7 linked regions of the Homo sapiens genome follow. The protein of the gene in region 6 interacts with the protein of the main gene of each other region in a biochemical or structural test. Each region holds a gene or a part of one and is shown on either strand. Other genes may lie near its edges. The genes, in order: RALBP1, DOCK4, ABCC4, DGKZ, SLC15A5, CARD14 and UBAC1.

Evidence for each region.
Region 1: the proteins of CARD14 (region 6) and RALBP1 interact in a test that uses a peptide from one of them, tested with the Homo sapiens proteins (one large-scale study listed by IntAct).
Region 2: the proteins of CARD14 (region 6) and DOCK4 interact in a test that uses a peptide from one of them, tested with the Homo sapiens proteins (one large-scale study listed by IntAct).
Region 3: the proteins of CARD14 (region 6) and ABCC4 interact in a test that uses a peptide from one of them, tested with the Homo sapiens proteins (one large-scale study listed by IntAct).
Region 4: the proteins of CARD14 (region 6) and DGKZ interact in a test that uses a peptide from one of them, tested with the Homo sapiens proteins (one large-scale study listed by IntAct).
Region 5: the proteins of CARD14 (region 6) and SLC15A5 interact in a test that uses a peptide from one of them, tested with the Homo sapiens proteins (one large-scale study listed by IntAct).
Region 7: the proteins of CARD14 (region 6) and UBAC1 form a complex in vitro, tested with the Homo sapiens proteins (one study listed by BioGRID).

Annotation. Positions count from the first base shown.
Region 1 is NC_000018.10:9,524,013-9,527,512, forward strand, and holds part of RALBP1 (ralA-binding protein 1), read left to right. Parts: intron 1-581; coding exon 582-743; intron 744-1,707; coding exon 1,708-1,839; intron 1,840-3,500. UniProt on the Homo sapiens protein: Multifunctional protein that functions as a downstream effector of RALA and RALB. As a GTPase-activating protein/GAP can inactivate CDC42 and RAC1 by stimulating their GTPase activity.
Region 2 is NC_000007.14:111,744,900-111,748,399, reverse strand, and holds part of DOCK4 (dedicator of cytokinesis protein 4), read left to right. Parts: intron 1-956; coding exon 957-1,133; intron 1,134-1,982; coding exon 1,983-2,066; intron 2,067-3,500. UniProt on the Homo sapiens protein: Functions as a guanine nucleotide exchange factor (GEF) that promotes the exchange of GDP to GTP, converting inactive GDP-bound small GTPases into their active GTP-bound form. Involved in regulation of adherens junction between cells.
Region 3 is NC_000013.11:95,070,952-95,074,451, reverse strand, and holds part of ABCC4 (ATP-binding cassette sub-family C member 4), read left to right. Parts: intron 1-127; coding exon 128-238; intron 239-1,147; coding exon 1,148-1,248; intron 1,249-2,598; coding exon 2,599-2,790; intron 2,791-3,500. UniProt on the Homo sapiens protein: ATP-dependent transporter of the ATP-binding cassette (ABC) family that actively extrudes physiological compounds and xenobiotics from cells.
Region 4 is NC_000011.10:46,374,963-46,378,462, forward strand, and holds part of DGKZ (diacylglycerol kinase zeta), read left to right. Parts: coding exon 1-83; intron 84-469; coding exon 470-669; intron 670-888; coding exon 889-989; intron 990-1,103; coding exon 1,104-1,183; intron 1,184-1,365; coding exon 1,366-1,435; intron 1,436-1,439; exon of another isoform or gene 1,440-1,522; intron 1,523-1,561; coding exon 1,562-1,602; intron 1,603-2,110; coding exon 2,111-2,250; intron 2,251-3,235; coding exon 3,236-3,267; intron 3,268-3,494; coding exon 3,495-3,500. UniProt on the Homo sapiens protein: Diacylglycerol kinase that converts diacylglycerol/DAG into phosphatidic acid/phosphatidate/PA and regulates the respective levels of these two bioactive lipids.
Region 5 is NC_000012.12:16,274,886-16,278,844, forward strand, and holds the start of SLC15A5 (solute carrier family 15 member 5), read right to left. Parts: upstream 2,801-3,959; coding exon 2,440-2,800; intron 1,641-2,439; exon of another isoform or gene 1,308-1,640; intron 967-1,307; exon of another isoform or gene 1-966. UniProt on the Homo sapiens protein: Proton oligopeptide cotransporter.
Region 6 is NC_000017.11:80,201,030-80,204,529, forward strand, and holds part of CARD14 (caspase recruitment domain-containing protein 14), read left to right. Parts: exon of another isoform or gene 1-714; coding exon 715-841; exon of another isoform or gene 842-1,150; coding exon 1,151-1,391; coding exon of another isoform or gene 1,392-1,395; exon of another isoform or gene 1,396-2,647; intron 2,648-2,748; exon of another isoform or gene 2,749-2,792; coding exon 2,793-2,856; exon of another isoform or gene 2,857-3,197; coding exon 3,198-3,312; coding exon of another isoform or gene 3,313-3,322; exon of another isoform or gene 3,323-3,500. UniProt on the Homo sapiens protein: Acts as a scaffolding protein that can activate the inflammatory transcription factor NF-kappa-B and p38/JNK MAP kinase signaling pathways.
Region 7 is NC_000009.12:135,932,469-135,934,921, reverse strand, and holds the end of UBAC1 (ubiquitin-associated domain-containing protein 1), read left to right. Parts: intron 1-1,406; coding exon 1,407-1,522; 3' UTR 1,523-1,953; downstream 1,954-2,453.

The sequences.
Region 1 (3,500 bases), on a different chromosome or scaffold from region 6:
TGGGTAGATCATTTGAGGTCAGCAGTTCGAGCCCAGCCTGGCCAACATGGTGAAACTCCGTCTCTACTGAAAATACAAAAAAATCAGCCAGGTATGGTGGCACACGCCTGTAATCCCAGCTTACCGGGGAGGCTGAGGCAGGAAAATCGCTTGAACCCGTGAGGTGGAGGTTGCAGTGAGCTGAGATTGTGCCACTGCACTCTAGCCTGGGCTACAGAGCGAGGCTCCATCTCAAAAAAGCACCACCACCGCCACCAACAACAAAAAACACACAAAAAATAAGATGTTTAAATCAGTTAATACTGTGATAGAAAAAATAAACAAATGGATGGCATCAACTTCTCTATCCTTTTCTTGACTTTTTTTCCCTTCAGATCTTTCTGGTGCTTGAATACATGATTTAACTCATATTTTACCATTTTCTTCTTAAATTGGCTATTAACTAGCAAAGACTGTGTTGTCATTACTGGGTAGAATTTTCTTTATGTGTCCAGGATTAAAGGATATATTATGTAATAGACACAAATAAGTGAAATAGAATGATAGTTTTAATGGTTTTCTTGTAAATCTTTTTTTCTTAGATCAGCAATCGAGTCCTGTATGTGTTTTTCACACATGTGCAAGAACTCTTTGGAAATGTGGTACTAAAGCAAGTGATGAAACCTCTGCGATGGTCTAACATGGCCACGATGCCCACGCTGCCAGAGACCCAGGCGGGCATCAAGGAGGAGATCAGGAGACAGGTGTGTGCACCCTGCCTGCCACAGCCTGCCTCTGCATTGGCTGTTGTGGAGTCCAGTGGTGATGGGCTCTTGTTTCCTGAACACTTTCTGTGTGTCTGGAGCTATGTTAGGCACACTGAAGTCAGAAATTCCCATCTGGTACTGTTTCATGCCAAATAAGTCAGAATACCATGGTGGAAAGAGCATAGTTTTTGGAATCAAAACACCTGGCTTTAAATTCTTGCTCTGATCTAGTTAACTGATTTTAGGCAAATTCTTAACCACCTTAAGCACTGGTGTTCTTGCTTTAAAATGGATCCTCTTATAGGATTGATGTGAAGATTACCCCAAATGAGATAATATATGAAACATGCCAGGCACGTTGTAAATAGTCTAAAGATGTTTGCCTTTTCTTGACAAGGTTGCTGTCATCAGCCATATTTTATAGATAAGAATATTAAAATTCAGGGAAGTTAAGTAACTTACCCTGTGTGACATGATTACTAATTACAGACCCAAGATTTGAGCCCAAATCCTGGGATTTTTTACTGTGCTATTTTGATGGAAGTAACAATGCCGTGTGTGTGTGTGTGTGTGTGTGTGTGTAATTCAAGACTAAATAAGAAAGTTAATTACATTTGATTATTTATTTGCATGCAATTTATCAAACCCCTGCTTGCTTTTCTTCCCTTGTATCTGCCCTGAGCTCCCAATGCTTACTAGTTAATGATGATGACATTGGAGATGGGGATGTGGATTAAGTATTATTGAACCAATACAAATTAGTGAATAATTAATAGGCAAAACAATAAGAATGATTTTTCAATCATATCTTCAAAAAAATAATTAGTGCCATTATTTTACTCTAATGAAATAAAGGATAATTGAAAAATAGTTGATTCTTCATCTTTAGAAATTGCACGTGTTGTTAGTTTAAGATAAGAGGATATGAAATGCAACTAGGTGTGTGGCATTTGCTTTCTAGGAGTTTCTTTTGAATTGTTTACATCGAGATCTGCAGGGTGGGATAAAGGATTTGTCTAAAGAAGAAAGATTATGGGAAGTACAAAGAATTTTGACAGCCCTCAAAAGAAAACTGAGAGAAGCTAAAAGACAGGTGAGTTATTATTTTGATACCTAATGTTTATAATAGAATGTGTTTGAGTCTTTTATGTACTTTATGTACTCTTTTTTTTTCTTTCTTTCTTTTTTCTTTTGATGTTGACCAGGGTGGTCTCAAACTCTTGGCCTCAAGTAATCCTCCCACCTCGGCCTCCCCCAGAGTGCTGGGATTACAGACATGAGCCACCACCCCCAGCCCAAGTTCTTTCTGTTAAGAATATTATAATGTCACTTGAAGTGAACTTCTCTGGTGGGACATTTATTCACTAAAATGTTTCTAGTCCTATATTATTGATATTGCAGCCTGGTGTCAGTCACATGTTTCAGTGTAATCTAGAAAGTTTTTTTTTTTTTTTTTTTTTGAGACAGGATCTTGCTCTGTCACCCAGGCTGGAGTGCAGTGGCACGATAATGGCTCACTGTAGCCTCGACCTCCTGGGCTCAAGGGATCCTCCTACCTCAGCCTCCTGAGTAGCTGGGACTACAGGTGTGCGCCACCATGCTCGGCTCATTTTTTATTGTTTGTAGAAATAGGGTCTTGTTATGCTGCCCAGACTGGTCTCAAACTTCTGGGCTCAAGCAGTCCTCCCACCCCCCAAAGTGCTAGGATTATAGGCATAAGCCACCATGCCTGGCCTAGAAAGTTTTGTTTTAATTAAAAATGATTTTACTAAAAAATTTGTCATTTCCTGCTTGGTTATACCTGTAAACAGGGCTTTCTATGGATGAAAAACAGGCTGGATGGTGACACACCTTTGGGGACTGCTGGGGAATTTAAGGCATTTAGAATTAGTCAGCTCTTTGGAAATGTAGTGATGAGGGTCACCTGGAAGGCCTTGAAGATCAGGAGAGATTCTATTTATGTAATAATAATAAGAGTGGCCTGCAATACCTGATGAGTTTAGGGTATGCCAGTCAGACTTTTGAGTTCCCTCTTGTTTAGTGTGTGTTGCTTGGTTCTGGGACTGTGAGTGTACCAGCCACAGCAATGGTAAAATCCCAGATCTCTGGATCACCTTAAAATCCACATTGCAGATCAACTGCAGCATCTAAACAGCACATCCAAGGAACATTAGTTAGCCCTTGCCTGAATTGGGGAACATGATAGTAGGTCTCTGTTGTGGTTGTGTTAAAGAGACAAAGACAACCTGAATACTTCTGTTTCTTTGAGGTTAGAGATTTGTATTAATGTGGAGGATAGCTTTGTCACACGGGGCACATTCATGGGACTTTTACACGTGCGCTCCAGGATATGTAATGTAGCAGAAGCCCTCTGCGTATTTTTCTTCCTTCTTTTTCCTAGCTCACTAGGTTATCTATCTCTTGCTTCCTTTACGTGTTTTTTGTTTTTGGTGTTGGTGTTGCTGTTAAAATTTTCCCTTCATGTCTCAGCCTAGAATCAGGTATTAGAGATGGACCACTCAGGCTTCAGGGGCAAATTGTAATTGTTAATCATATGGCATTGCCAGTCAGCCTTTAAATGAAGAGTCCCCTGACTGACCTAGGACAGGGCTGATGGAGGTTTGGCTTTTGTTTCTCTTGCTTCTACATCTTGCCTAAATAAAGGAATCATGGTATAGCAGCCAGAACCAATATAAGAAGGGATGGATTAACTTTGCTTTACCGATTTTCCCGATGCTATGTTTTCACGCCAGC
Region 2 (3,500 bases), on a different chromosome or scaffold from region 6:
CTTATATACCCTGAACACGTGCTTTTTGATGGTTACACATGTTACAAAATCTTCTATGTTCTTGCTTATCTTCCCTTCTCTTTGTCTTTGATGAATGTTCAGTCTTCATATTCTAGGATTTTTCAGTGTTGGTTTAAGATGATCCAAGTGACCTTTAAAAACTCTAATTTGTTTCCTTGCCTGAATGAACCAATATTTAAATATGCTAATTGTAGTCCTGAATTACTTGATTGCTGAGAGCTTGGCAGACCTTCTCTTCAAGGCAATAGCAGTCCCAATGACATACATTTGAAGAGCACTTTTATCATTTTCACAATTAGGTCCTCCATACAGCCTGGAATTTTTAAGTCATTATGATTCTATTTGGCTCTCCAACAAATAGATCCTGCAGTATATATTATCTTGTTTTCTATAATTCCCAACTGTGTGCCATCCTGTGCCACCTTATGGTGCTGTTATATATATATATGAGGTTCATGTGGCATATGTCCCATCTTCCCAACTGGGCTGAAAGCTCCTTGACATCAGAGGATCCATAAATGCATCTTTATATCTCCCATGGTGCTTTGTATCAAATAAGCATGAGAAAGGGGATAATATTCAGGGTCTCTGAATATTTAACCCTTCAAAAGAAAAAAAAAACTAGTTTTAAAAGACATGAGATGCTTGGATATTATTTTAAGGATTAAATTGGTTGTTGCAGTGCTAATGTAGAATTGATGATTATCCAAACCACATTTCAATGAATAAGTATAATTACCTGCCCTTTCCAAACCTTGCTAATGAACATCCCACTTGACTTCCACATCCTTGTCTATTCTACGGAATGGCCCCTGGTAGAGATATTGATGGAAGCCAAGGGGGAGCACAGATAATTCAGAACATGGATAAACTACTTTGTCTTTCTTCTTGAATGTCACAAATTCAATATATATTTATGTTCATTTGCTTCTCAGGTAGAAATGAGTCCTCTGGAAAATGCAATTGAAGTGCTAGAAAATAAGAATCAGCAGCTGAAGACTCTGATTAGTCAGTGTCAGACAAGACAGATGCAGAATATTAATCCCCTGACTATGTGCCTGAATGGAGTTATAGATGCTGCAGTTAATGGTGGCGTTTCCAGGTATCAAGAGGTAAGGATTAGGTATTGTTGTTTCAGAGAAAGTTTTCAATTGTGACTTCTTAGGGTTTCATGAATCTTTTTTCAGACTATGTACCCATATCAGCACGCAAACATAGGGCTGCGATTGACACAGAGTCCTTTGTTAAATAGAGCAAACATACAGTCATTTGTAATTGCCCAGTAACTCCATTTTCCCAACATGTTATATTTGGATAATAAAAATGTGTGTGTGTGTGTTCATTCTTGCATGAATAAAAGTAGAAAGGACATTAGGACTGTTTAATAAATATCCGTCTAAAATAATTTCTCTAAGCAAAGAAGTTCATGGGCATAGAAAAGTCTGATCTGGGCTGGGCTCAGTGGCTCACACCTGTAATCCCAGCACTTTGGTTTGAGACCAGCTTGAGCAACATAGGAAGATCTTATCTCTTATTTAAAAAAAAAAAAAAAAAAAAAAAAAAAGATAAGACCGATCTTGCTTAGATGATACTTTAAGTGGACCTTTCATCTGCTCTCTTAAACAGAAAGATATAATACCCTGGAAGGTAAGGCCACCATCTAGGTCACACTGAATCTTAAGGCAGTTTGTTTTAGGATACAAGCCATATAGCTTACTGATTTGGGCTTGTTCTTTATTTTAGCAAGGGTACTTATTGTACAATCACTGATCTTCCTTTAACAATTCTTTCCTTATGTTCCCATTCTGACCAACCACCTACACTAGTAATCAGCCCATCTGTCCCAAAATGTGGTTTGTAATGGTGTCATTTCCATAAAGATGCCAGGTCTTTAAAAACAACTTGTCTTTGACTTGCCTTGTACTCCACTAAAGTAGACTGATTCTCCTTTCCCTTACTAGGCATTCTTTGTCAAAGAATATATCTTAAGTCACCCTGAAGATGGGGAGAAAATTGCACGATTAAGAGAGCTGATGCTTGAGCAGGTAAGGGAAGCAGAAGCCAACCCCCTTCTATTTTGCCTGGATATGTGCTTGCTTACCTAGAGCCCCCTCTGCATGGTTTCCTGCATCAGTGGTCTAACAGAAGCTGGCAAGCAAGGGTGACAGATTCCTGTAATATATCCCAGCTTGCTAATTTCTACTTCTTCTTCCCACTCCGATGCAAAAATTAATTTAACAATGAGTAGACTATGGCAGCCAGTTACAGGTTGAGTATCCTTTATCCAAAATACTTGGGACCATAAGTGTTTCAGATTTTGAAATATTTGCATATACATAAGAGATATCTTGGGGGAGGGACCCAAGTCAAATAACAAAATTTATTATTTCATATATATCTTATACACATAGCCTGAAGGTCATTTTATATAATATTTTAATAATTTTGTGCATGAAGTTTCGACTGCAACCCATCACGTGAGGTTGGGTGTGGAATTTTCCACTTGTGGGATGTTGGCATTCAAAAGGCTTCAAATTTTGGAGGATTTCTGATTTTCAGTTTTTGTATTAGGGATGTTCAACCTGTGAAACAAACAACTTCATGTGGTCTCTTAAAACATTCTTTGAATGTTCTCTTCCTAGAGACTTGCTGTAGGCTTGATGCCAACTTTTTTTTTTTTTTTTTTTTTTTTTTTAAGACGGAGTCTCCCTCTGTCACCCAGGCTGGAGTGCAGTGGCATGATCTCTGCTCACTGCAAGCTCCGCCTCCTGGGTTCACGCCATTCTCCTGCCTCAGCCTCCCAAGTAGCTGGGACCACAAGTGCCCGCCACCACACCTGGCTAATTTTTTTTGCATTTTTAGTAGAGACGGGGTTTCACTGTGTTAGCCAGGATGGTCTCGATCTCCTGACCTTGTGATCCACCCGCCTCAGCCTCCCAAAGTGCTGGGATTACAGGCGTGAGCCACCGCGCCTGGCCGATGCCAACTTTTCACTCAAAATTCTGTGCTCAGAAAAGTTCAGGCCAACTCCAAATATGAGGCATGAATGAAATTTTTACTTAAGCATTGTAATAAGGAAGTGGGCAATCAGTAGATCTTGCTTTAAAGCAGTGTCATATTTTGCAAAGTAAACCTATAGGTTACATGATATGGACAAAACTACATACAACTCATCATTTTCTACCCCCAGAGAAGCGTGGTTTATTTATTTGGAACCATCAAGTACAAAGAACTGGAATGAGTAATCTGTTGCCTACTGTGTCCCTATTGATAGCCTGAAATGGTTTGAAAACCTCTGAGGTAGGAGACATGGTTGGAAGCCTGTGTTAAACAGGAAATAAAGACATTTGCTTCCTGTGAAAAGTGGAATATGTGTGATGAAACATGACAAAGGCATTTCTTTCTACCCAATAATGCCAAATTAATAAGTAAAGCATGCTCTTTGGATTAGAAAATGAGGTCGTGTCTGGTTTTCATCC
Region 3 (3,500 bases), on a different chromosome or scaffold from region 6:
AAGGTTCCTTGGGTGTGCAACTTTGGTGCCCTACTCCACGTAAAAATCTTCTGTAGCTCAACTGAGCAAAACACACTCGCACATTCATCTACTTATTCATCATGCTTATTACCGTTCTCAAATTCAGAGGCTTGGTTCTTGTTTTTGACAACGTCCCGCTGGTTTGCCGTCCGTCTGGATGCCATCTGTGCCATGTTTGTCATCATCGTTGCCTTTGGGTCCCTGATTCTGGCAAAAAGTAAGTACAGATGTGAATAACTATGTATGGTATGATTACAATTTATAGCTGTGTTTACATTTATTAAACTCTTGCCACCTTGTCTACTACTACATACTGTTTGGTCCTAATGAAGTGTATTAAATCATTTACGATGTGTCAGGTTGGGTAGGATTCAGCAGTGTGACTCATTTAAGGAGTCATTTGGGTCTTGATGGGTTTATCTTTCTTTGAATGGGTTGAGATATGCGCAGTTGAGATTCTGAACATTCCTGTTAGTGTCTGGTAGTTGTGAAGAGAAAACCAATTTATTCTGAAGCATTTTGTCCAACTTAGGGTGTTAGCCTTCCAACTACTTGAATCTATTGTTTGTAGTTGCCTGGTGCATGAGGTTGAGAAAAATTCTCAGCAGGAGAGTATTATCTTCAATGCCACATGGGTACCAGACAAGCAGGGCATGAGTTCACCACCCCAGTAACAACAGTGCATTACAATACTTAATAATGGAACAAGGAGAGTAGTATTTTAGTCTCAAAAGCATTGGCACTTACAACCTATTGCTTTGTTTTTAGTGGTTTCCAGCTGTGGTTGCATTGCACGTAGAAAGTGGAATAATGTAATGAGCTTTGAAACCATAATAATGAATGTCTGAATAATGACATTATTTCTTGCGTTTGTAATACTGTTAATTAAATCTATGTCGATCCTGTTGGAATTCATAAAATCATCTAAAAATTTTTCTAAATATACAGTGTTGTTTTCCCCATTGTATCTTGATCTCAAGCAACAAATGGTAAAAGTATAGCTATTAATGTCATTAAATGTGAATTGTTTCAACATTATGAAGGGTTCCTCTTGGTAAGTGGCAGAAGGAGCCAGGCTTAGGTTTGAAGTGAGACTGACTTTATTCCCTTCTTCCTCCTTACGTAGCTCTGGATGCCGGGCAGGTTGGTTTGGCACTGTCCTATGCCCTCACGCTCATGGGGATGTTTCAGTGGTGTGTTCGACAAAGTGCTGAAGTTGAGAATATGGTAATATTTACCTTCACGTTCTTTGCCTTTTCAATCTCCTTGCCATTAAATGGTATAAAAGCCATTCTTATGTGAAATATTAAAACTGTTATTTTTACATCTTTGGTAACAGATTTTTTTTAAGATCCTTCCTCCATCTGTTTAAAGTTAATGTAAAATAAAATATATACATCTTTTTCTGAGTCTTATGGTTGCTCTGTCAGCAGGTTTTATATTCATCACAAGCTTTTTCAGATGTAATAAATGTCTCTGTAGGAGGGAGGTTCTGAAATTCTAGAGAGGATATAAGCTAATTTCTTAGAAGCCTGTTTAATTTTGTTTCTTAACGGGTAATTCCTCATTCCTGTTAAAAGAAGACTTCAGTATTTTGAGGTTGTTTACATTTAATTAATAGGTCTCCTCCTCTCCCAGTTCTAGCGTTTACTCTCTTATGTGAAGAACAGAAGGGAGGAAGGCCTTAACTTTGCTGGTGTGCCTTCTTGGTACAGAAAGCCTCCTCTTGGAATGTGCTAGTCAAAGGGTATTAGTTTATGGTGGTATAGGAGGCTTTAATCAATGTTTTAAATATTTGCACCTTCCCCTAAAGAGAGAAAAGCAATAAACATAAAAATCTTTTCATTCTTCTCATAGAGCAAAAGTTGAGTAATTATTACAGTGAGGTTTCACGATCATCCAGTTTAACTGACCTATATCAGGTGATCCTTCTATAGCAAAAGATTCTTTTTTGGGGGGTAGGGGTGAGGGGACAGAGTTTTGCTCTTGTACCCCAGGCTGGAGTGCAATAGTGCGATCTTGGCTCACTGCAACCTCCGCCTCCCGGGTTCAAGCGATTTTCCTGCCTCAGCCTCCTGAGTAGCTGGGATTACAGGCATGCAGCACCACGCCCAGCTAATTTTTGTATTTTTAGTAGAAATGGGGTTTCACCATGTTGACCAGGCTGGTGTCAAACACCTGACCTTAGGTGATCCACCTGCCCCGGCCTCCCAAAGTGCTGGGATTATAGGCATGAGCCACCGCGCCCAGCCAGCAAAAGATTCTTGATTGGTGGCTCTAAGTATTCCTTTCCTTTACAAAATTTTCTTGCCTTTAATACAGGTGTGAGAAGTGGATAAATAAAATCTAAGCATTCATTTCTCTCATTCTTTTAACCTAATGTTGAAGGAAGTGGTTGTAAGTGAAGGTGTTACACAATGATGAACCAAATTTGTAAGTCATCAACATCCTCGTCTGTCTCCTGCTTCTCTCCTTAACCAACTATGTATGAAAGAAGAACATTTCATTGACAGTCTCTTAACATCCATAAATGACACCCTCCATTCCTAACCCCTCGGGATGTCATATTTCTTTCAGATGATCTCAGTAGAAAGGGTCATTGAATACACAGACCTTGAAAAAGAAGCACCTTGGGAATATCAGAAACGCCCACCACCAGCCTGGCCCCATGAAGGAGTGATAATCTTTGACAATGTGAACTTCATGTACAGTCCAGGTGGGCCTCTGGTACTGAAGCATCTGACAGCACTCATTAAATCACAAGAAAAGGTTTGTTTAAAGCATCTTGCCTCTTCTCAATTTCAGAAGATTTAGTGCTATGTCTGCTTGTTGTCTTCCTTGTGGATGTGTGAAGGGGATCAGTGATACGTAGGTTAACCTGTCTTGGAAACTAACCATGGAATGTGGATACCAACATTCTTCCTGCTGTGAACTGCTTTACTGTGGTTGGTGGGCCCCGGGCCTCAGGGCTGGAGCTTAACGTGACCCAGGATACTCTGTTTGATACCTAATTACTCATGGATTTTTCCAGGAAGTCAACTCTGGCTTTGTGTCACCAACACTCCTATGTCTAATTCTGTCGATTTTTACTTTGTTGCATTTCTCAAGTCCTTCTCTTCCCCTCCACTGCTGCAGCTTCTGTTCCAGCCTTTCTCCTCCTCCATCCTTTGGTCCTGTATTAGTCTGTTTTCACACTGCTGATAAAGGTATACCCAAGACTAGGCAATTTACAGAAGAAAGAGAGGTTTAATGGACTTAAAGTTCCACATGGATGGGGAGGCCTCAGACTCATGATGGCAGGCAAGGAGGAGCAAGTCACATCTTATATGGATGGCAGCAGGCAAAGAGAGTTTGTGCAGGGAAACTTCCCCTTATAAAACCATCAGATCTCATGATACTTATTCACTATCATGAGAACACCACAGGAAAGACCTGCCCCCATGATTCAATTACCTCCCACCGGGTCCCTCCCACAACAT
Region 4 (3,500 bases), on a different chromosome or scaffold from region 6:
ACCCTGGGGAGCACCACGACTTTGAGCCCCAGCGGCATGACGACGGCTACCTCGAGGTCATTGGCTTCACCATGACGTCGTTGGTGAGTGGGCCCTGGGCCCATGGTGCCTGGGAGCACAGCCCAAAGGTGGAAGGGGTCACCCATACTCACCTCCATGGGCCACGGCGGCCTAGTTCACCCTCACCTCCCTTCTTTGTCTCATTCCTCTGGCTTGAGAGCGGCACCTACCCCCTCTCCTCACTATGCCTCGGGATACCTTCACTCCCCACTCTGACTGGAGCGTCACCCTCATTGCCTCTGTCCCTTCCCTTTCCTACCTGGGGTCTCAGCCTCCCCTCTGCCCTCTGGCCAGGGGTCACTCTCACCTTTGTTCTCTGGCTAGAGTTTCTGCTTCGGAAGGAGCAGAGTCTGGGACCCCCCTGCCCCCAGCCCTGGTGCCATCTGACCCAAGCTTCCTGTGCCCACAGGCCGCGCTGCAGGTGGGCGGACACGGCGAGCGGCTGACGCAGTGTCGCGAGGTGGTGCTCACCACATCCAAGGCCATCCCGGTGCAGGTGGATGGCGAGCCCTGCAAGCTTGCAGCCTCACGCATCCGCATCGCCCTGCGCAACCAGGCCACCATGGTGCAGAAGGCCAAGCGGCGGAGCGCCGCCCCCCTGCACAGCGAGTACGTCCCACCCTGCCACGTGCCCTGGGTGCCAAGGCCAGACCCTGCCCTCTCTGGGCCTTGATTTCCCCATCTGTAAAAGGGGCTGACTGTCCCTCTGCCCCAGGGGTGTTGGGAGTGGAGCGGGACCTTCTCTCGGCAAGTGGTTTGGTGCCAGGCCGAGGGTGGCACCAAGGCAGGGCCCTTGCTGAGCCCCCGCTTGCCGGCCCTGCCCGACAGCCAGCAGCCGGTGCCAGAGCAGTTGCGCATCCAGGTGAGTCGCGTCAGCATGCACGACTATGAGGCCCTGCACTACGACAAGGAGCAGCTCAAGGAGGCCTGTGAGTGCGGTGGGGCGGCCTGGCAGGGTGGCCAGGAGGGGCTGAAGCAGCCGGGGCCCCCTTGGGCAGGGCTGTGGGGTGCAGCCAGCTGCTGACAGGTGCTCTGTTCTCCAGCTGTGCCGCTGGGCACTGTGGTGGTCCCAGGAGACAGTGACCTAGAGCTCTGCCGTGCCCACATTGAGAGACTCCAGCAGGTAAGGGGTGGGGGCTTCCCCAGGTGCCCACCGAGAGGGTGGTGGGAAGTGAGGCCAGGCCTCTTCCTCCCGCAGCCAGCTCGCCCTGCGGAGCCTCCTCTGTGCTGGTTCCCCCTACTCCAAGTTCCCTTCCCTCCCTGGCCCCCACTCTATCCCAGCCTGGCCTTTGCTTCTCTCAACAGGAGCCCGATGGTGCTGGAGCCAAGTCCCCGACATGCCAGAAACTGTCCCCCAAGTGGTGCTTCCTGGACGGTGAGTCTACTCCCAGGGTGCCAAGCTGTTTCGTGTTCCCTCCCTAGGGGATCCCAGGTAGGGGCAGCAGAGGACCTGGGCCTGGACATGGCACTCCCTGATCCTCAGCTGCCCTCTCTCCCACAGCCACCACTGCCAGCCGCTTCTACAGGATCGACCGAGCCCAGGTGAGCGATTGCAGGCCTGCTCCAGCCACAGCTGCTTCCGGGCCCCAGGGTCGCCTCTCCTGGGACGCCTTCCCTGTTAGCTCCCCCGATGGGCTCACCTCTGTCCTCATGCCTCTGAGAGCTTTTACTATTGCCTGTGTGCATGGACAGCGTGCGGCCCTGCCCTCCACACTGGAGAGTATAGGGCGGTGCCAGCCAGAAAGGCAGTGGGGTACCTACCAAAGGCTTGCTGGGTGGGTAGGAGGGCCTGGAAGCCCAGAGCCATCCAGGGAGACACAGAAGCAAAGGCATTCTGGTCAGGCGCCAGCTCACCTGGTAAAGTCTGGGCAGTCGGAGGAGGTGTCAGGAATGGGAAGGAGTGGGAGAGGGACAGGCAGGGCCCCTTGCCTGGCCACCTCCTTTCAGTGTTTGTGCTCATGGCAGAGGCTTCTCCAGGTCTACCAGCCTTGCTGCCCCTCGGCCCCCACCGTCAGGTGCCCTGACCTCCCGCCCTGACCTCCCCCCACAGGAGCACCTCAACTATGTGACTGAGATCGCACAGGATGAGATTTATATCCTGGACCCTGAGCTGCTGGGGGCATCGGCCCGGCCTGACCTCCCAACCCCCACTTCCCCTCTCCCCACCTCACCCTGCTCACCCACGCCCCGGTGAGTCCTGGTGTCCCGTCCCTCCAGCCCCTGGCTTTCAGCCCCACCTGTAAGCCGATGACTTCTGAATCCCTGCTTCTAGCCCCTCCACCAGTTAACTAAATGGTGTCAACCTGAACCTGGCCAAAGCCCACCTGACGGCCTTCAGCCCTGTGGTTCTGTGGGGAAGCGGCCTCACGTCCACCCTGGTTCCCTCCCTGACTTCTCCCTCCTCTGGACCTCATCCTTCAGCCAGTCCTGGCAGCCCCCGGACCCACCACCTGAGCACTCCTCCCCACCCCTACTGCCACCAGCCCTTCCCGGCTGCCACGCCCTGGCCCCCAGCTCTTATATCCCTGTGGCCATTCGTGCCCTCGAACCCCCATCTCCATACCACGGTCAACTAAAAATGCAGAGCATACCAGGCCACTCCCCAACCTAGAAGCTTCTTTCTCAGCAGCCCTTTGGACGTGGATTCTCCCCAGGCCCCCCGTCATTGCACTGGGCTCCCAGCCCCCTCCCTGAGTTCACCTCCATGGTCCTGCCCCACTCTCTTCTCTTGGTTCTTTGAGGCATCAGGTGTTTGCCACCACTGGACTTCTGTCATCGCTGCCTCCAACTCTTCCCCCATCTTTCCGGAGCTCCCCCACCCCCATCCCCTTCGAATCTCAGCTTGGCTGTTTCCTCCTTGGAGAGATCACTCCCAGGACCCCCTCTGCAGGGGTGCCACATCACCTGTTCTGAATTCTTAAGAGCACCCCTGCTCTCAGAACTCCTTATTTATTTGACTTGTTTGTATCCCTGAACTAGAATGTAAGCTCCATGAGGGCAAGGCCTTCCTCTGTCTCGTTTCCCTGCTGTATCCCCAGTGCCTGGAATAGTGCTTGGTGTGTAGCAGGCACTCAATAAACTGTGGAAAGGATGAAGATGCCCCCAGTTGGGGTTGGGGAGGGCGACCAGCTGGCCTGTGCCGTAGCCGGTCACAGCACATCATGCTCTGTTGCAGGTCACTGCAAGGGGATGCTGCACCCCCTCAAGGTGAGGCCTCTCCCTCTGGGGCCCCTCCTTTCTGCCTGGTTGGGGGCAGGAGGCTCAGTGGGGTGGGGATAGGGCCCAGACACAGCCTTACACAAACACAGCCTTTGAGCTTCACGCACCAACGGAGCCCTGGGCACACATGCCTGGCCGGCACAGTCCTGTCCACTGAGGCACCAACCCAAGCCCAGGCCTCCGACTGCAGAGTAACAGGCAGGTATTCCGTGCAGGTGAAG
Region 5 (3,959 bases), on a different chromosome or scaffold from region 6:
TCTGTTGTAAAATGATGCAGTAAAGAGACAAAACAATGACATATATGAAGAAAAGTCTCCTCTGTGATGTGTGCAATTGTGTATCTCATCATCAGTATGCCTGCATTTAGTAGCTCTGTAGAAGCACCATGATGTGTCATACCCCCTGCCAGGTGATGGGGGTCCGCTGAAGGAAATGTTGAGTCCATCAGAGAAGTCAGCCATGCAGGTGGACAATTATATTATAAAGTGATGGATGCAATCGTATAAGTATTATATGGGTGTGGTTGAACACAGAGAAGCTAGCAACAAACACTATTTGGTTCTTGAAAGAATAGCAGGAGTTTTCCAATCATGGATAAGGGATGGAAAGATAAGGGAAGGTGACAATTTCAGAAAGAGAGAAGAGCATGTACAAGATTAGAAAACTAGGGAAGGAGGCCAGGAGAAGTTAGCAAGGTTGGGGTTGCGTGTTGAACAACAAGTCTAGAGAGGTGAACTTAGAATAGGTTGGTAAGGTTGTTGTATGCTAAATTAATAAGTTTGGATTTCATTTTTTAGATAATAGAAGCAATATAGAGATTTATTTGTTCAGGAAGTCAGTGTTGTTGGTAGAATGGAGTACAAGCTGGAGACTGACTGAGAACTGGCAGCCGAGTAAGTAGGCCATTGGAATGGTTAAAAAGAAGAAAGCTGCATTTTTTCAGCTAGGGTAGTAGCAATTCAGACAGAAGACCTTTCTTATATATAACCTCTGAAATTTAGTGACAGTTGGAATTTGATGGCAGCTGTAAGTGGAGGGCAACAAAGAAATAACTTTTAGTAAAAAAATGAATGGATGTAGAGTTGACTTAAGTCTTTTGTTTGCCAGATTCCAAAGTTGGGATTTCCATCCTGTCTGATGACTGACCTCAGAATTTAGACTGATAGAAATTACCATGTTAAACAAGAAGTCAACAAATGCTACTGGTGTGGCCTGTTACCAAGGTAAGCAGAGTAAGTTAGTCTGGGATTTGCTTAAATGTCTTCTTATCAGAAAACTTTTTCTCGGTACCAAGTAGCAGCCTCATCACCATCCATTCCATCCTGTCCCCCTACCCAGCTTTATTTTTCCATCCTAACTCATTGCCACATGACATCATATCTATTTCCTCTTTTATTTTCTCTCTCCCTGCACCAAAAAGTCAACTTTAGCAGGAACAGACGACTTTCTTCTCTATTGCATTTCCAGACCCAGAATAATGTCTGGTACAGAGTAGTCAATAAGAAATATTTGTTGAATGTTGAGTGATTATTTGCCATGCAGTGACCTAGTTTTTATTCCACAGAACTAAAGCTGTGAAGTTTCCAGGTTTGACTTAAACTCCAATGGATTCTCTGAATGGTAATTTACCACCTGCCTGAGATTGTGTGATATGTTGAGTACCTGATATCTATCCATCTCTTTCTCATCTGTCCCCCTACCAATACTCATTTCAGCTGCACTTCTCATTATTGGTGAACAGCATGCTATATTCCCAAGTTGCTCAGATCAGAAACTTGGAGCTAATTTTTGACCCCCATCACATTTGTACCTTTATTTAGTTGCCTTACAGCTTTTCACTTGTTCTCTCCTGAATTGGCACTTTATTGCTTAAACCATCATCCTGAGATTTTCTGATCTCTCTCTATTTAATTCCTCACTGTGGTTGTCCATCCTGTATTGCAGAATAGCATTTCTCAAATGTTGTTTTCATGATATTTTCAGAGACTTCTTGTTGCTTAAGAAGAATAACTTGAACTTTTCAGTTTAAAATTCTAGTCTGTTCTTCAAGTTGCTCTCTATTTCTTATTAAACTATCTTGATATTTTCCCAGCATTTCTCACAATCGGTCCCAAACTTTTGCAGATATATATTAGTATATATGTAAAGATGCACACTATAGTGTCTAATTTACTCATTTCTAAAGCATATAATCATAGTTAAAAATATAGAAATCATGCCATCATATGCAATCTTAATTACTATATGACTAATTAAAAGACCACCTTTGGATAAAAACATTTCTCAATTATTTTACATGAACTTCAAAAACCTTTTTTAGCACATTTCATCTTAGTTGTGAAGCAAATACATTTCACATTTCTGAGGGAATTTGTCATGAATTTAGGCTTGAGGTAAAAAGGTTTTGGGAAAGGAGGGCATTCTAAGGAGTAAGATAGATATGTAAAGGAGTAATTATTATAAAATATAAATGCAATGATATAGGCACAAAACATTCTCTAACACACACACACACACACACAGACTTACTAGCATTCTTCAAATAGTACAAAGAATGAAATACATTGAACCCACATTCTTACTTCATTTATCACATTTTATGCTAAGAGCAGAGTGAAAATAATATAAACTAAAAATTCTAACAAAAATCTACTTAATTAAGTCACAAAACAATCCAGTCAGCAGAGGACACTCACCTAGAAAATGTAGAAACAAGCAAATGTACACCAGTTTGTTTCTTCCTAAATAGACATCAGTGAGCCATCTGACAAACACAGGGGTAAGTATTGAAGTTCCAATAAAACACAAGTTTAAGATGGCTGCTTGGCAATTGTGATAGCCAAGCTTGATAGTGCAAAAGGGGATCATGTTGCAGACGACTTCAAAGAACGTGAACCTCTCACACAGCTCCACCAGAAGCAAGCAGATTCCAACCTGAATTTTTTTCACAGAGTGTGAGGAACACAAATCGCCAATATGTCTTACAGTTTTCTCCTTCTCAATGCTGTGATATAAGTGTACTTTCTCATCAGTTATGGTAAAGCCTGTAACAGACATGACTACCCTCCTTGAACAAAACTTATGTTAGTGGTTTGAACTTGGTGATATTTTGAGCCCCATCCCTCTGATGAAAAAAATAAGAACGTTGCTTTGAATTTCACATCTCCATGCTAGAATTTCATAAGGTTTGTTTTTTGCACATGGACGTTGTTCCTTTTGATGATCCAAGAGCATGAGTATTTAAATGTTCACAGTAGCTCAGTGTACCCAAATCTGATTTGTTTGCTTAATTACTTAGCGGCTAAATTAGGATCGTCCTCCAAAATTGTATTGAATTACATGAATCCAGTTGCAAACATGTGGAAACTCATCTGCCTCATACTGATAAAGGTTTAAATATTGAGGCAGAAGAAGCAGGTTTTCGGGAGAATTTGAGCACTAGATCAAGAAATAATTTGAGTCTAATAATTTCTGATACTTTAATTAAACAAGCCAGAACAGTACCAAGAGATAAAGCGCAAAAGGAAATCTGTTTTGAAGGGCACGATATCTTATCATTATTACATTTCTTGTTATTTTTGGTTGGAATTCTGATAAGAAACTTAATTAGGTAACAAAAGTGCTAGTACATTTAGGTAACAAGCAGAGTTTACAAGAAAGTAATTTAAGTGCACTAATGAAAGGAGAAAATATTAAACGAAACCCTGCTTCCTTTTAGTTGACCCCATGCTTGTAGAACAGCCTCTCAGAGGAAATCAGAATCAAAAGGTGCTATTTAACTCCTTTATTATTAATCAGTAGTCAGGGATACAGCAACCAGCCTACACAGGCTTTGGGGAATATTGGATCTGGTATCACCCTGACCCTTCAGCTGGGTGAATGGGTGTTAGCATTCTATTTTGGAAAGCAGGAGGGCCAATTAAGCTAAAAAAGCAGCAGTGAAAGAGAACACCTTAACATTTAGTGGCTTAGCTGCAAGGACATAGGAAGAAAAGGGACCGGAACTATTGGGTCAAAGTCATAATAATTCAACACTTGAGTATAGGAATGTTATTTTCATGCTGTAGTCAAAACCTAAAGACCAATAGGGACTTTTGACTCTGGTTATCATCTTTTGGTTGTGAGAGACTGGGGGCAAAATACTCTGTTTTGACCCCTTCTAATAGCCTCATTGTAATGGTAGCTATTTGTCTCTGCTCAGCATTGCTACTTTGGT
Region 6 (3,500 bases):
TGGCCCAGGGGTTGGGGAACCCTGCTCTTAAGGTTCCCAATTATCAGCTCTGAGGTAGTTCAAGCAACAGAGCCCCTTGACGATGTTCAGGGAGATAGTCCCGATATCCTAAGGGGGCCAATTAGATTCTAATGGTGTTAAAACACATCTTAATTTTTATTGTAAAAATATCTACTCTCCTAAGCTTAGAACAATATTGAGAAGAAATGAAGTGGATGGTGGAAGCCCTGGGGGGTGGGCCTTCACAGTGGGGAAGGCTGTGGGTGGAGAGCCAGGGCATCGGGTAGGTGAAGGCCAGGGATGCCACTCAGCATCCTGTAGGGCCCGGTATAGCCCGCAGCAGCACAGAATGATCCCAAGGCTAAGAAACCTCTATCTAGAATGCTCTTGAATGTTCTAGAACCGAGGTTCTTTCTTTTCTTTTCTTTTCTTTTTCAAGACAGGAAAGTGCTTATCACAAAGAACCCCCGATCTCGACTGGGGAAGGGTTGGCAGTTGACTCTCTGGCCAGCACTATGTGTAGCACGCATCACTAGAGGTGTGAAGGCCCCACAGAGGCTCTGGTGTGTGGCTTTGTTTTGACCAAGGCGTGCAGGCAGTGGTCCTACGGCAGGGCTGGCCCGCGCCTCGCCTCAGTGCCCTCAGCGCCTTCTGTCTTCTGGCTGGATTCAGAGTCCCGGGGGAAAGAGACTGACCTTCTCGACTTGCCCTCAGGTTGATTACGAAGCCTCAGAGCCCTTGTTCAAGGCAGTCCTGGAGGACACGACCCTGGAGGAGGCCGTGGGGCTTCTCAGGAGGGTGGACGGCTTCTGCTGCCTGTCTGTGAAGGTCAACACGGACGGTACACATACCACTCCTCTCGTGTGCACAGCTGCCTGGCCAGACTCCATGACCCTTAAGTCCCTGGTGGTTCTTCTGCACGCCCAGCAGCCAGGGACCCCCAGAGCCAAGAGAGGATCAGCCAGGCTGTGCCCCAGGTCCCCAGGAGGCCCCCAAGCCAGCTGGAAACCTCCCACCCACTGACTCCAGTGCCAGAGCAGCTTCTGAGACTGGGAGGGTCCTTCCTTCTCTCCTACTTTAATTTTCTGCAACCTTCCTCGCAGAGGCTCGTATCTGTGGCTCATCTGTGGCTCATGTCCCCTTTTATCAGGTTATAAGAGGCTACTCCAGGACCTGGAGGCCAAAGTGGCGACCTCGGGGGACTCATTCTACATCCGGGTCAACCTGGCCATGGAGGGCAGGGCCAAAGGGGAGCTGCAGGTGCATTGCAACGAGGTCCTGCACGTCACCGACACCATGTTCCAGGGCTGCGGCTGCTGGCATGCCCACCGCGTGAACTCTTACACCATGAAGGATACTGCCGCGCACGGCACCATCCCCAACTACTCCAGGTGAGCAGCTGCCTCGAGCTCGGTGCGTCCCCAGAGAGGCCCACAGGGAAATGGCACCCAGCCTGCCTCGGCTTCCTCCTCCTGCCCAGCAATAGAGGGTGGGCGTGGTGAGACCCCCCTAAGGAGGGAAGCCTGCCAAGATCACTGCTGAAGATGTTGTTTCTTTGTGATGGATGCTTTATATATTGCAAATGAAATGTTCATTCTAGAACATTCTAGATCTGGGTTTCTTAGCTCTGGGTTTCTTAGCTTTGGTACCATGGACGTTTGGGGCTGGATCCCCGTCTGTGGTGGGGCCGTCCTGGGCACTGCAGGATATAGAGCAGCATCCCTGGCCGCCCTACCCAGGATGCCGGGACTACTCCCATGCCCCAGCTGTGACAACCAGAAATGTCTCTATAGGTTGCCAAGGGTCCCCTGGTTCTCCTAGGACTGTCTTGGTCTTAGCACTGAAAGCCCCACTTGCAGGGAAGCCCCTCGGTCCTGGGCAAGCAGGGACAGCTGGTCACCCTCCCTGGGGAGTGACATTGCCCCCTGCCTTGCTCCATTGAAAACCACTGCTCTAGGCCGAGCATGGTGGCTCACACCTGTAATCCAAACACTTTGGGAGGCCGAGGCGGGTGGATCATCTGAGGTCAGGAGTTCGAGACCAGCCTGGGTAACCTGGTGAAACCCTGTCTCTATTAAAAATACAAAAAACTTAGCTGGGCGTGGTGGCAGGTGCCTGTAATCCCAGCTACTCAGGAGGCTGAGGCAGGAGAATCACTTGAACCCCGGAGGCAGAGGTTGCAGTGAGCCGGGATTGAGCCATTGCACTCCAGCCTGGGCGACAGAGTGAGACTCTGTCTCAAAAAAAAAAAAAAAGAAAAGGAAACCATTGTTCTAGATCAGCCTATGGGAGGCTCCAAGTTTCAAGTGCACGGAACGCACAGTGCTAGAAAGCAGGAGTGTTGAGCTCAGCACCCCCATCACTCATTGCAAACTCAAGTCCCCTGGGGATCGGAGCCAGCAGGTCCAGGGAGAGGCCTGGCACTCTGCATTTCTAACAGCTCTCTCGGTGACTCCAGGCTGCAGGCCAGGGACCCACCATGAATATTGAGGTCCTGGAGTGGGGCCCTGTACGCTGGCTGCTCAACAGCACCCCCTGGGTCCCGCCCCAGGACAAGTAAATCAGCATCTCCAGGGGTGGGCCGAGGCCCTGGAGTCTTTTGAAAGCTCTGGAGACTGGCATGGCCGCCAGGATGGAGCGCTCCAGCCTGCAGCAAAGGGATGTGTGGAGCTCTAGGTGGAGGCCCTTCTCTCCCACCCGGCCATCTCCCCCACTCTCCCCTGCTCGGCTCTCCCCTGCCCTGCTCACCTGGCAGGAGGCAGCTGGGTCAGGGCCTCTGCTGGTCTCTGCAGGGCTCAGCAGCAGCTCATAGCCCTCATCCAGGACATGACTCAGCAGTGCACCGTGACCCGCAAGGTGAGGCTCCAGGGAGGGGCCTGGACCCCACTGGGGTGGGCTGGAAGAGGGGCTCGGTGCTGGCAGGGTGGCAGGAGGCACTGTGTGGAGAGTGGGCTGCTGATTGGAGGGTAACCCCACCTGTCTCTCCTCTGCACCCCTTCAAACCAGGGCAGGGTCTGCAGCCCCTGCCCAGCCTGCAGGCTCTTGCACAAGTGCAGACACACCTCAGGCTGTTCTCAGAGCATCTGCGCCTCTGCATCACTCCCAGGTCGCCCTAGTGCCAATCATCTCCCCTGAATTCCCATTCCTGTTGATGGCTTCAACAGCTCCTCCTCATCCTTTCTCTGTCCCTCCTTTAGCCATCTTCTGGGGGACCACAGAAGCTGGTCCGCATCGTCAGTATGGACAAAGCCAAGGCCAGCCCTCTGCGTTTGTCCTTTGACAGGGGCCAGTTGGACCCCAGCAGGATGGAGGGTGAGGCCTGGTGAGCTGGCACAGGGGCCACTGGCTCCAAGTGGGTGAGGGGCTTTGGGAGCTGCTGCTAGTTGGTCAGCTGGGGCAGGGGGATGCCACTCATTTAGGCCAGGATCTGGTCTTCAAGAATCATGGGGCTGGGTGTGGTGGCGCACACCTGTAATCCCAGATACTCGGGAGGCTGAGGC
Region 7 (2,453 bases), on a different chromosome or scaffold from region 6:
GCAACAAAGCAAGTCGCTGTCTCAAAAAAAAATTAAATTCAAAAAGGAAAGTCCTTCCTCAGATAAATAATCATCTGTGTGGTTTTTCATATTTAACTCTTTATCTTTTTGTTCAACTCTTTCATCCTTCCAGAATTTATTTTGCTGTTTATTGAGAGGAAATGGGAAATTAAGTTCCCCGCCCTGTGTGTGAAACAGCTGTTTCGCACCTTATAGTTTGTTCTTTCTGAGTCTTTTTCTGGGATTTTTATTTTTATTTTTTGAGACGGAGTCTCACTCTGCTGCCCAGGCTGGAGTGCAGTGGCGCAATCTCGGCTCACTGCCAGCTCCGCCTCCCTGGTTCATGCTATTCTCCTGCCTCAGCCTTCCGAGTAGCTGGGATTATAGGCGCCTGCCACCACGCCCAGCTAATTTTTTATATTTTTAGTAGAGACAGGGTTTTACCGTATTAGCCAGGATGGTCTCGATCTCCTGACCTCATGATCCGCCTGCTTCGGCCTCCCAAAGTGTTGGAATTACAGGCATGAGCCACCGTGCCTGGCTTTTTCTGAGATTTTAAAGTGGTTTTTGGAGACTTTTAATCAGAACACCAGAGGATTGTTTTAAGGCCTGGGGATTGTCCAATCATGAACAGAGCCAAGTTGGGTTCACTCTGAGCTCTGTGCTCAGCCATGGGCTACTGGGCCGTGAATGGCTGTGAATTCTGTAGTGAGCACTGTCCCTGGAGCCTGTAGACCTGGGGCCACTTATGCTGAAGTGCGTCCATGTGTGTCAGGTCAGCATGGAGCCATCGATCCTGGCAGAGGGGCTGGCAGAACGCGTGCTCCTTCACAGTGGGTGGAACAGAGAGCTTTTTGCTAAAAGCCACCTGTTTTGGGGAAACAGTTTTGTAAAGCTGTTAAAACCCAAGTTTTCATTTTGAAGAAGTGCTGTGTTGCATTTTTAATGTGCTGGTTTTTTGAAGAAGGAATTTTCTGAAGGCTGAGCATTACGTTTTTCCAGTTTGTTGTTAACTTTGCAACAGTGTCTGTGTGTGTCCTTTCTGCATCTGCTGACCTTCTCGGGGTGGGATTGGAAGTGGAGTTGTTGGGGAAGATGATTTTTGAGCCCTGGCGGCTGCCAGACAGCTGCCGAGAGTGGGGGTGCCATGAGCACGCACAGGCACACTGCCCACCTGCCAGAATTGAGTGCATGACTCTCTGTGATCAGATCTGATTTGATGGGTGCATCCGATGGAGTTGGGTGGGTTTCAGCCTGAGAGTGCACACTTAGCAGTGAGCTCTGTGTGGCCTTTGTATTGGAGACGCACCCTCTTCATTAGGAAGCTGCCGAAGAGGAAAGTCACGCCTGTGCCTGTGGGCTGAGTGGGGGCGTGGGCACTCAGGCTGGCTCTGTTTTCCCTGCAGCATTTGAAGACATGCTGGAGAACCCACTGAACAGCACCCAGTGGATGAATGATCCAGAAACGGGGCCTGTCATGCTGCAGATCTCTAGAATCTTCCAGACACTAAATCGCACGTAGGTGGCGTTGTTCCACTCGGCTATCAGGCCACAGCAGCCCCCTGGTGCGGCCCGAGACCGGGCAGAGTGGACCTCACCTGGAAACTCACCTTCAGCGCCTCAGCCCTGGACTGTTAGAGGTGCTGCAGCTGCTCCTGCTCTCTGATCTTATTGCTTATAAACTTTGGTGACGGTAGTGTGTAAGGCCGTATTTTTAGCATCTGACAGGTGTTTACAAAAAAGTGGTTGTCGCACTGGGAAGTGGAGTGATGGCCTCGTCTCCAGTGCTCCTCTGGGCTCTTGAGTTGCTGCTTGAATTGCCGTGTAGACATTTGCTTGGAGAGTCCACTTGTTATTTGACGGAGGTAGGTTTCAACCCAGAGTTAATGTCAAGCATGCTAATTTAACTAGTCACTCACAGATGACTTTTCTTTAATAAAGTCCCTTTTCCTATTTCCTGTCTTCGTCTTTTCTTGGTGCCGCACAAGAAACCCGTGCGTCCCCGAGAGGCCACATCCCCGCGGCTCCGTGCCGGCTGCTCTGACCCGGGGCGGGCACCGGGGCCACCGCAGCATGTGGGAGGCCTTGTGGCCATGTTTGGTTGGCAAAGCCTCGTGTTGTATTGGGTTTAAGGGACTGGAGCTGAGCCCGTATTCCTGGGACACAGGTCCTGAGCCCAAGCACGGCTGCCTCCGCCTACCTCTGGCCTCTTCCTCCTTTTTTTTCATTTTAAAAAACATGACCGGTGTCTTAAAATGAGAAAATGAATTTATTTTGTTTTTTGTGAACTCTGCTCATTATTGTTGCTGGAAGCAGTCAGTTCCGAGCTGTTTGTTTTGAACTTCTCTTCTGAACCAGCCCCCTCCCCTTCTGAACTCTGCTTGCATTGTAGCTGAGTAAGAATGTTTTCGGAAAATGTTTCTCTCCACACATCTAGGTCTTTTCATTGTTTT